Homo sapiens: one gene and its partner. The protein of the gene in region 1 purifies or fractionates together with the protein of each later gene. This does not show direct contact. Each region holds a gene or a part of one and is shown in the gene's direction. Other genes may lie near its edges.

Region 1 (3,500 bases):
GGATTACTTGAACCTGGAAGTTTGAGGCTGCAGTGAGCTGTAATTGTGCCATGCACCCCAGCTTGGGTGACAGAGTGAGACCCTGACTCAAAAACACTGTACATTTCAGGCATGTTAAGTATATTTACATTATTTTATAAAAGATTTCTAGAAATTTTACAATACACATTAAACAACTACCAATTTTTCCCATTTCCTGGCACTTTTCAAATACCGTTCTGTTTTCTGTTTCTAAGAGTATAACTGCTTTATATATCTCATAAAATCTGTTTGTGGCTGGCTCATTTTATTTTGCATAAAGTCATCAAGATTTACCTTTATAGTTGTTAGAATATTTCCTGCTTTTTTTCAAACTGAGTAATATATTGGCATTTTTGTATTTCAAATTATATCTGCTGAACGATTTGGTGACCGAAATTTGCCTTGCTTTTACCTACTGGCTTTTAGTAACAATGCTAAAATAAATGTGGGTATGCAAATGACTCTTCATGTGACCATATATGTGAGAGTTTATATATGTGCTGCATTCTATTTTATTAGTCTACTTTTTCACCTTTATAGTCATACCAAATTGTTTTAATTCTGTAGCTTTGTGTTTTGAAATCAGGAACTGTAATGCCTCCAACATTGTTTTGTTTTGTTTTTAATATTTTTGGGTACTTTATTGTATGTAGAGATTCTGTATACTCGAGGGATTGCTGTTTCTGTTTCTTCAAAAATGCAGTGAGAAATTTGAAAAACATTGCATTAAATCTGTAGATTGCATTGAGCAGGATGGACATCTTTACAGTATTACCTTTTTCAGCCTTTCACAAGAGCATGCTCAAGAGTGTGTTGTTTAATTTCTATATATTTGTTAATTTTTCAGATTTTTTTTCTCGTTGTATACTCATTTCATTTTGGTGATAGAAAGTAATTTATAAAATTTCAGTTTTAAAAAAACTGGTAAGACTTAATTTTCTTCTTTTTGTAATAAGAGGAGGTCTATCAAGGAAAATGTTGTATTAGCTATTGAGAACCATGTGTGTCCTGGTGTTGAGGGGTGTTTTCTATACCTCTGTTAGAAATAATTGTCTTACACTGCCTGGAAGTCCTCTATTCCCTTACTAATATTCTCATTTAATTTTTATTACGGAAAATGCAGTGTCAAAATATCCTACTATAATTATGTTGCTCTCTATGTGTCTCTGTTATTCTGTCAATGTTTGCTTTATATGTTTGGAGCCCTAATGTGAGATACACACACACACACACACACACACACACACAGAGAGAGAGAGAGACGTGTATACAGATTTGTCATAGGTTCCCAGTGAGTAAATCTGAAGTGGTTTTTTTTTGTTGTTTTTTTTTTTTTTTTGAGACAGAGTCTCACTCTGTGTCCCAGGCTGGAGTGCAGTGGTGTGATCTCGGCTCACTGCAACCTCTGCCTCCTAGGTTCAAGCGATTCTCCTGCCTCAGCCTCCCGAGTAGCTAGGATTACAGGTGCCCACCACCATGCCCGGCTAATTTTTGTATTTTTAGTAGAGTCAGGGTTTCACCATGTTGGCCAGGCCAGTCTCGAACTCTTGACCTCAAGTGATCCACCTGCCTCAACCTCCCAAAGTGCTGGGATTACAGGCGTGAGCCACCATGCCCAGCCTAAATCTGTAAGTTTTAATGTCCTTTTTTGTCTCCTTGGAGTTTTAACTTCAAGTACATTTTGTAAAATATGATAGTTTTTGACTTAAGATGTAGCTTGCATAATACTATCTTGATTTCTTCTGCTCTCATTTGATTAATATTTGCATGAAATGTATTCTTCCATCTTGCCCCTTTTAGTGTTTTTTATCATTAGATCTCTACTGACTCTTGTAGAAAAAAAAGTTGGATCTTGGTTTTTAAAATTTTTAATCTGTTGAAAGTATGTCTCGATTTGAAAGTTAATTTTATATATACATTTAAATAATTGATAAAGACGGACTGTTACATTTTTAATTATTTTATTTGATTCTTGCATCTTTGTTTCTCATTTTCTCTCTTTGTGTCTTTTTGATTTTTGTATTGATATGCTTTTACTTATTTCTAATTCACTTTTGTATATTTGTACAGATTTTTTTTTTTGGTGGCACCTTGGGGGTTGCATAAAACTTCTATAAGAAACAACAGTATAGTTTTAATTTGGTATAAAATAAATCTCAGTTGAATAAAAAAATCTTCCTCATTACATCTGCCCTGAAATTTGTCTTTGATGTTGCTAATTATGTTTTTACATTGTATATTCATTAACAGTTGTTTATAATTTCTGTGCTTTTATTTTTCAAAATTTAGAGATCATTTAAAATGTTTTCTGCACCATTATGATAATGCCACAAGATTCTGTTTTTATGTATGTGCATATCTTTCCTGGAAAATAATGTATTTTTATATGATTATGTGTTTTTTTTTTTAATACTTTTACTTTCAGTTTAAGGAACTGCTTTCATCATCTTTTATATGTAGGGCATATGCAGTGCTAATATACTTTTTCAGAATTTGGTTGTTTTGGAAGGTTTTTTCTTTTTATGTGGCAGGACAGATTTGTTGATGGTATTATCCTCAACTTGATAGCTTTTTTTTTTTTTTTCCCCTCAGGACTTTGTGTCACACGGTATCTTTCTGATCTGCAGAATTTTTGTTGATAATTCACTGGTAATATCATAAGACTATGTTTGTAAATGACACATTACTTTTACCTTGTAGCTCCTAAGACTTTCTTCTTGTCTTTGATTTTTGAAAATGTGCTTAATATGTATCTGTTTAAATATCTGTGTGTGTATCCTAATTTGTTTGTTGAACTTCATTTTTACATCATTTTTCTTTTAGGATTTTCCAGTTGTTTATTTTTCTACTTTTTACCACCAAATTGTTTTTTTTAATATTTTGATATTCTTGTATTTATTCTCATTTTTGTGACTTTCTACAGTGGACTGTGTTCCTGTTTCACTCATTGGATATTATTCAACTTATGAGTGTTTAAAATGTGTACATCTTTTTTATGGTTTCTTTCTGAAGTTTATACGGTATTTTTGATGAAATTATATTGCCCTGTTTTGTATACATTGTAATCTTGGAATGAGATTTGGACATCAAAAAAAGCTACCTGTCACAGTCTTTAAAATGTGTTTTTTTCTGACATAGTCTGAAAACAATTATCTTGGCTAGAGATTCTGGGAGTCTCTCAAACATGTTCTTAGGATCTGCCTTGTCTAAAATTTTGTGTTTAGTTTTTAGTCAGAGGAGTTTATTTGTGTTTCTCTTCTTTTTTTTTTGAAACAGAGTTTTGCTCCTGTCACCCAGGCTGCAGTGCAATGGCATGGTCTCAGCCCACTGCAGCCTCCACTTCTCTGGTTCAAGTGATTATCTGGTCTCAGCTTCCCACTTAGCTGGGATTACAGGCATGTGACCCCATGCTCAGCTACTTTTGTATTTTTAGTAGAGACAGGGTTTCACTATGTTGCCCAGGCTTGGTCTCAAACTCC
Region 2 (4,075 bases), on another chromosome or scaffold:
GTGCACCTTCTTCTCATGCCAAAATACGGCCCCTCCTTTGTAGGGTGTAAAACGACACTGATGTCACTCTCTCTCACCAAGGTCTGGCCATCTCTGTGAAGCTCTCCTCACAGGCACCCTGCAGATTCATCAATAAACTTCAACAGGTTAGCGCCAGTAGGCCAATAAGATGCACACTTATATTCTAGAACCTGTGAAAGAAGTAATAGCCAGAAACTGGAAAATAACAGTCAAACTCTTAAAAAAATGCCTCTCAGAACACAGTCACTTACACCTTTTCCTCTGGTAGTTCTCTTCAGCACCAAGTTTCCTGGAAGAACAAGCTACTCCCCAGTTTTCTTAAAGAATTGTCTGATTGTATTAAGTAAGTGGCTTCTGGTAAAATAATGGTAAGAGAAAAGCTCTGGCATTCTCTTGATCACTCATCTTCTCTGCCTTCCTCCCTAGCAACATCTCCTGGCCTCAGCCTGTGGGCTTCAGCAACACCAAACTCCATGTTGCTCTCTGACAAGCCCGGCCGTCTCCAGTTCTTGGGCTTTATTTCCTCGGGGGCCCTCTGCTGAAATTCCCTTCCCCTTGCTGTATTAGCACCTCCTACCCGCCTTCAACATGCAGGCACTGCCTCCTCTAAGGAGCCATCTGTACTTACGTAGCTGTGAGCATAGGATGGGGCATACAGCAGGCACTTAACAAATACTTGTGGAATGGAAAGAAACTAAGATAGGATCAAAAATACAAATCAAGATGTGAGAGAAAGACGATCAAAAGCCCTCACGAGGGGGCTGGGCGTGATGGCTCACACCTGTAATCTCAACACTTTGGGAGGCTAAGGCGGGTGGATCACTTGAGGGTGGGAGTTTGAGATCAGCCAGAGCAACATGGAGAAACCTCGTCTCTACTAAAAATACAAAAAATTAGCCAGGCATGGTGATATATGCCTGTAATCCCAGCTACTCGGGAGGCTGAGGCAGGAGAATTGCTTGAACCTCGGAGGTAGAAGTTGTGGTGAGCTGAGATCATGCCATTGTACTCCAGCCTGGGCAACAGGAGTGAAACTCTGTCTCAAAAAAAACAAAAAACAAAAAAGAACACCACGGGAAAATCAAGTGTGAAGCAAGAGCTCAACTCTTAACAGGGGCAATGTTTGGAGTTTTGTTACTGGAAAAGATAGAGACCTTACCAGGTCCAAAGTTTGTAGACACAGGAATTACGAAATGGAGAAGGGGGAGAAGTGAGCTAGTGGCAGCATAAAAAGACCAGCAGATGCCCCACAGCACTGCTCTTCCAGAGGCAAGACCAACCAAGATGAGGTGGGTCCACAGCTTTCCCTCCTGCCTTTCCTCTGGTTCTTTATTTCAGTCTTTTTTGCATACATTGGTACAGATGCAGAAATAGAACAAAGAAACAGGGCAAATGGGCTAAATTATAGTGAACCAAAGGGCTTAGTGTGTTAAATCTTCTCCTTTTCTGCATCCATAGAAGACAGTGCTGCTGTCTTTCCCAGGAGATAAGATTTACTCTCAGGAGTGTCTTTTTCCTTGAGGTTACGTTTTTGTCTTTGTAGGGTATGTCATCAGCTCCCGTGGTAGGCTTCCTGGCATTCGGAATATATTTACTAGCAGATATTTTCCTCTTTAAAAATGTATAATAAGAAAGACTAATAGTAACACATTTGAATGACACAATTAATTGACTAGTACTTGGGATACACACTAGTACCTGGGATACATCTAATTAAGACACTTAGATCTTAAAAAATAAAAAGACTTTTTGAAATGTTGAAATAATAAGACTAGAAACTTTTTTTTTTGTGAGACAGAGTCTCACTCTGTCACCAGGATGGAGTGAGTGGCGCGATCTCAGCTCATCGCAACCTCCCCCTCCCCGGTTCAAGCAATTCTCCTGCCTCAGCCTCCCAAGTAGCTAGGACTACAGGCGTGTGCCACCACGCCCAGCTAATTTTTGTATTTTTAGTAGCGATGTGGTTCACCATGTTGGCCCGGATGATCTCGATCTCTTGACCTCGTGATCCACCTGTCTCGGCCTCCCAAAGTGTTGGGATTACAGGTGTGAGCCACCGCACCCTGCCTAGAAACTATTTTAATAGAAGCAAATAGTGCCTGAATGGTGGGCGTCTGTTAGCGAGATGGTGAACTGGCAGATGGCGCCTGTGTGTCAATGCCCATGGCCACCGTCCTGCTTTCAGACACCAGTTCTCTTCCAGGTAACCTTCTGGCATTTTGGGGTTTGAGATACCATTTCCTAAAGGTGAATTATCACAAAATACTAGAAATAACCACATAAGTGTTTAAAATTATTGTTAAATACAGTAAGAAATTCTTCTTCAAAAGTTTAGCCTGCTTAAGTTTCCTTGTCCTTTGTTTCCTGCTTTCAAGGCCAGACTTCCTTACTCTCTGTGTTTCCCCTACCCTGGTAAACAACCTTCCTGCCAGTCCTTACCCATACAGCCCACATTCCACATCTGCTACCCACTCTGTGATTTACCTCTCCCGTCGCAATAGCCTCTCCCACCAAAACTGATCTTCCCGCCTTCCCACCAGTGCAACCACATTCCTGCACTTTGCAAGTTAGCCAACCGGGTTCGGATTGTGCAGTCCAACTCCAGCCAATGGAGTCAGGACACAGTAGCAGGGACAAGCTGCGTTAGACATAAAAACCTCTGCTTTCCTTTGTTTAGGGTGCTCTCGTGGCAACCAGACTTACCAGGAGCTCTATTCTGCAAAAGTAAATTTGCCTTGCTGAGAGACCCTTTGTCCTTTGGCTCAGTGTTGGTTCTTCTTTGCAGCACCGAGCATTTGTTTCCAACAAATTTGGTGGCCCATACAGGGAAAACATTGTCCTCCGGGAAAGGGTCTTTGATCACCTCTTGTGAGGAGACACATCCCACTGCCTTGTTGCAGTGGCCTCATGAGTAAGGAATCGAGACCCACCTGGTCTGATGAATAACCCCAGACTCTCAACAACGTGGGGAGAAAAAGACTTGCAACACTATGGTGGCCAGGTAACTCTGTGCGCAGACCAAGGTAAGAAATGTCGCAGGAGTGACAAAGTACTTCCTTGGTGGTCACTATATTCTGGTGGCTGAAAGTTCATGAATGGTAACAAGTGCTACTGCTGTGTGGAGTGAATGAGTCCAATCTGTGGGTCTATGGTTACCTCATACGGCTTAGCCTTCTCTGAAGGATCCTGATGTTGGGGTTTATATAGTCCTCCCAATGCTAAGCGGGACTTAAAATATTCCTAGGAGGAAAGTGGCCAGAGTGGATGAAGCAAAAGGAGAAGAGTGTGAAGAACCTCCAGGAGGTGGGGCTAAAAGATAGGCAAGAAATCTCTAATACGAGGGATTGAGCCACAGAAAGCTCCAGACAGATAAAAAAGAAATTCCTAATATGAGGAACTGAGCCACAGCAAGCCTCCAGCAGGCAACAAATCCCTAATATGAGGGATTGAGCCTAGCTAAGACCCAATATGGGAAATACCCCAAGAAAGACAGAGAATAAGAAGGATGAAAATAGTAACAAGGATATACCCCTTGATAGTCCCCTAGGTTTCATGTTAAAATACTGGAAAGATAATGAGAGGACTAAGCATAAGAAGAAGGAGCAAATGATAAAATATTGCTGTTTCATTTGGACCCAAGGTCCCATCCTCAAACCCTCAATCTTCTGGCCAAAGTATGGGTCGAATGAGGGTGTAATGAGTCAACTCCTAATCCAATATGTTAATGATAAAAGTCTGGTTTCTCAAGAAGAACTAGACTATGCTCTTTGTTGGAAGCAGGGACCTGTCCTCCTCTTTCCCTTAAAGACAACTAGGGAAGAATCCGATCCAGCATCTCAAATTGAGAAGTCAGACAAGCCGACTCCCACACCTAAAGTCAGCACATGGGATCCCCTAGACTGTCTTCCTTTGCTTACTGCCCCAATCCTAACCCCCCTACTCCTCAGGCAGCTGCTGCTGCCCCAGATCCCATCCCAGATTCTTCCCCAACTCATGATGTTCCTCCCGCTTACAACCCTGACTCTCAGGGGCAGTCGTCCCAAGAGCCTGTTCA

Evidence for each region. The genes of interacting proteins can lie anywhere in the genome.
Region 2: the proteins of ZNF492 (region 1) and HPR purify together in Homo sapiens (affinity purification with mass spectrometry; one large-scale study listed by BioGRID and IntAct). This does not show direct contact.

The regions. Positions count from the first base shown.
Region 1 is NC_000019.10:22,658,324-22,661,823, forward strand, and holds part of ZNF492 (zinc finger protein 492), read left to right. Parts: intron 1-3,500. UniProt on the Homo sapiens protein: May be involved in transcriptional regulation.
Region 2 is NC_000016.10:72,061,951-72,066,025, forward strand, and holds the start of HPR (haptoglobin-related protein isoform 1 precursor), read left to right. Parts: upstream 1-1,275; 5' UTR 1,276-1,305; coding exon 1,306-1,310; intron 1,311-2,806; exon of another isoform or gene 2,807-3,044; intron 3,045-4,075. UniProt on the Homo sapiens protein: Primate-specific plasma protein associated with apolipoprotein L-I (apoL-I)-containing high-density lipoprotein (HDL).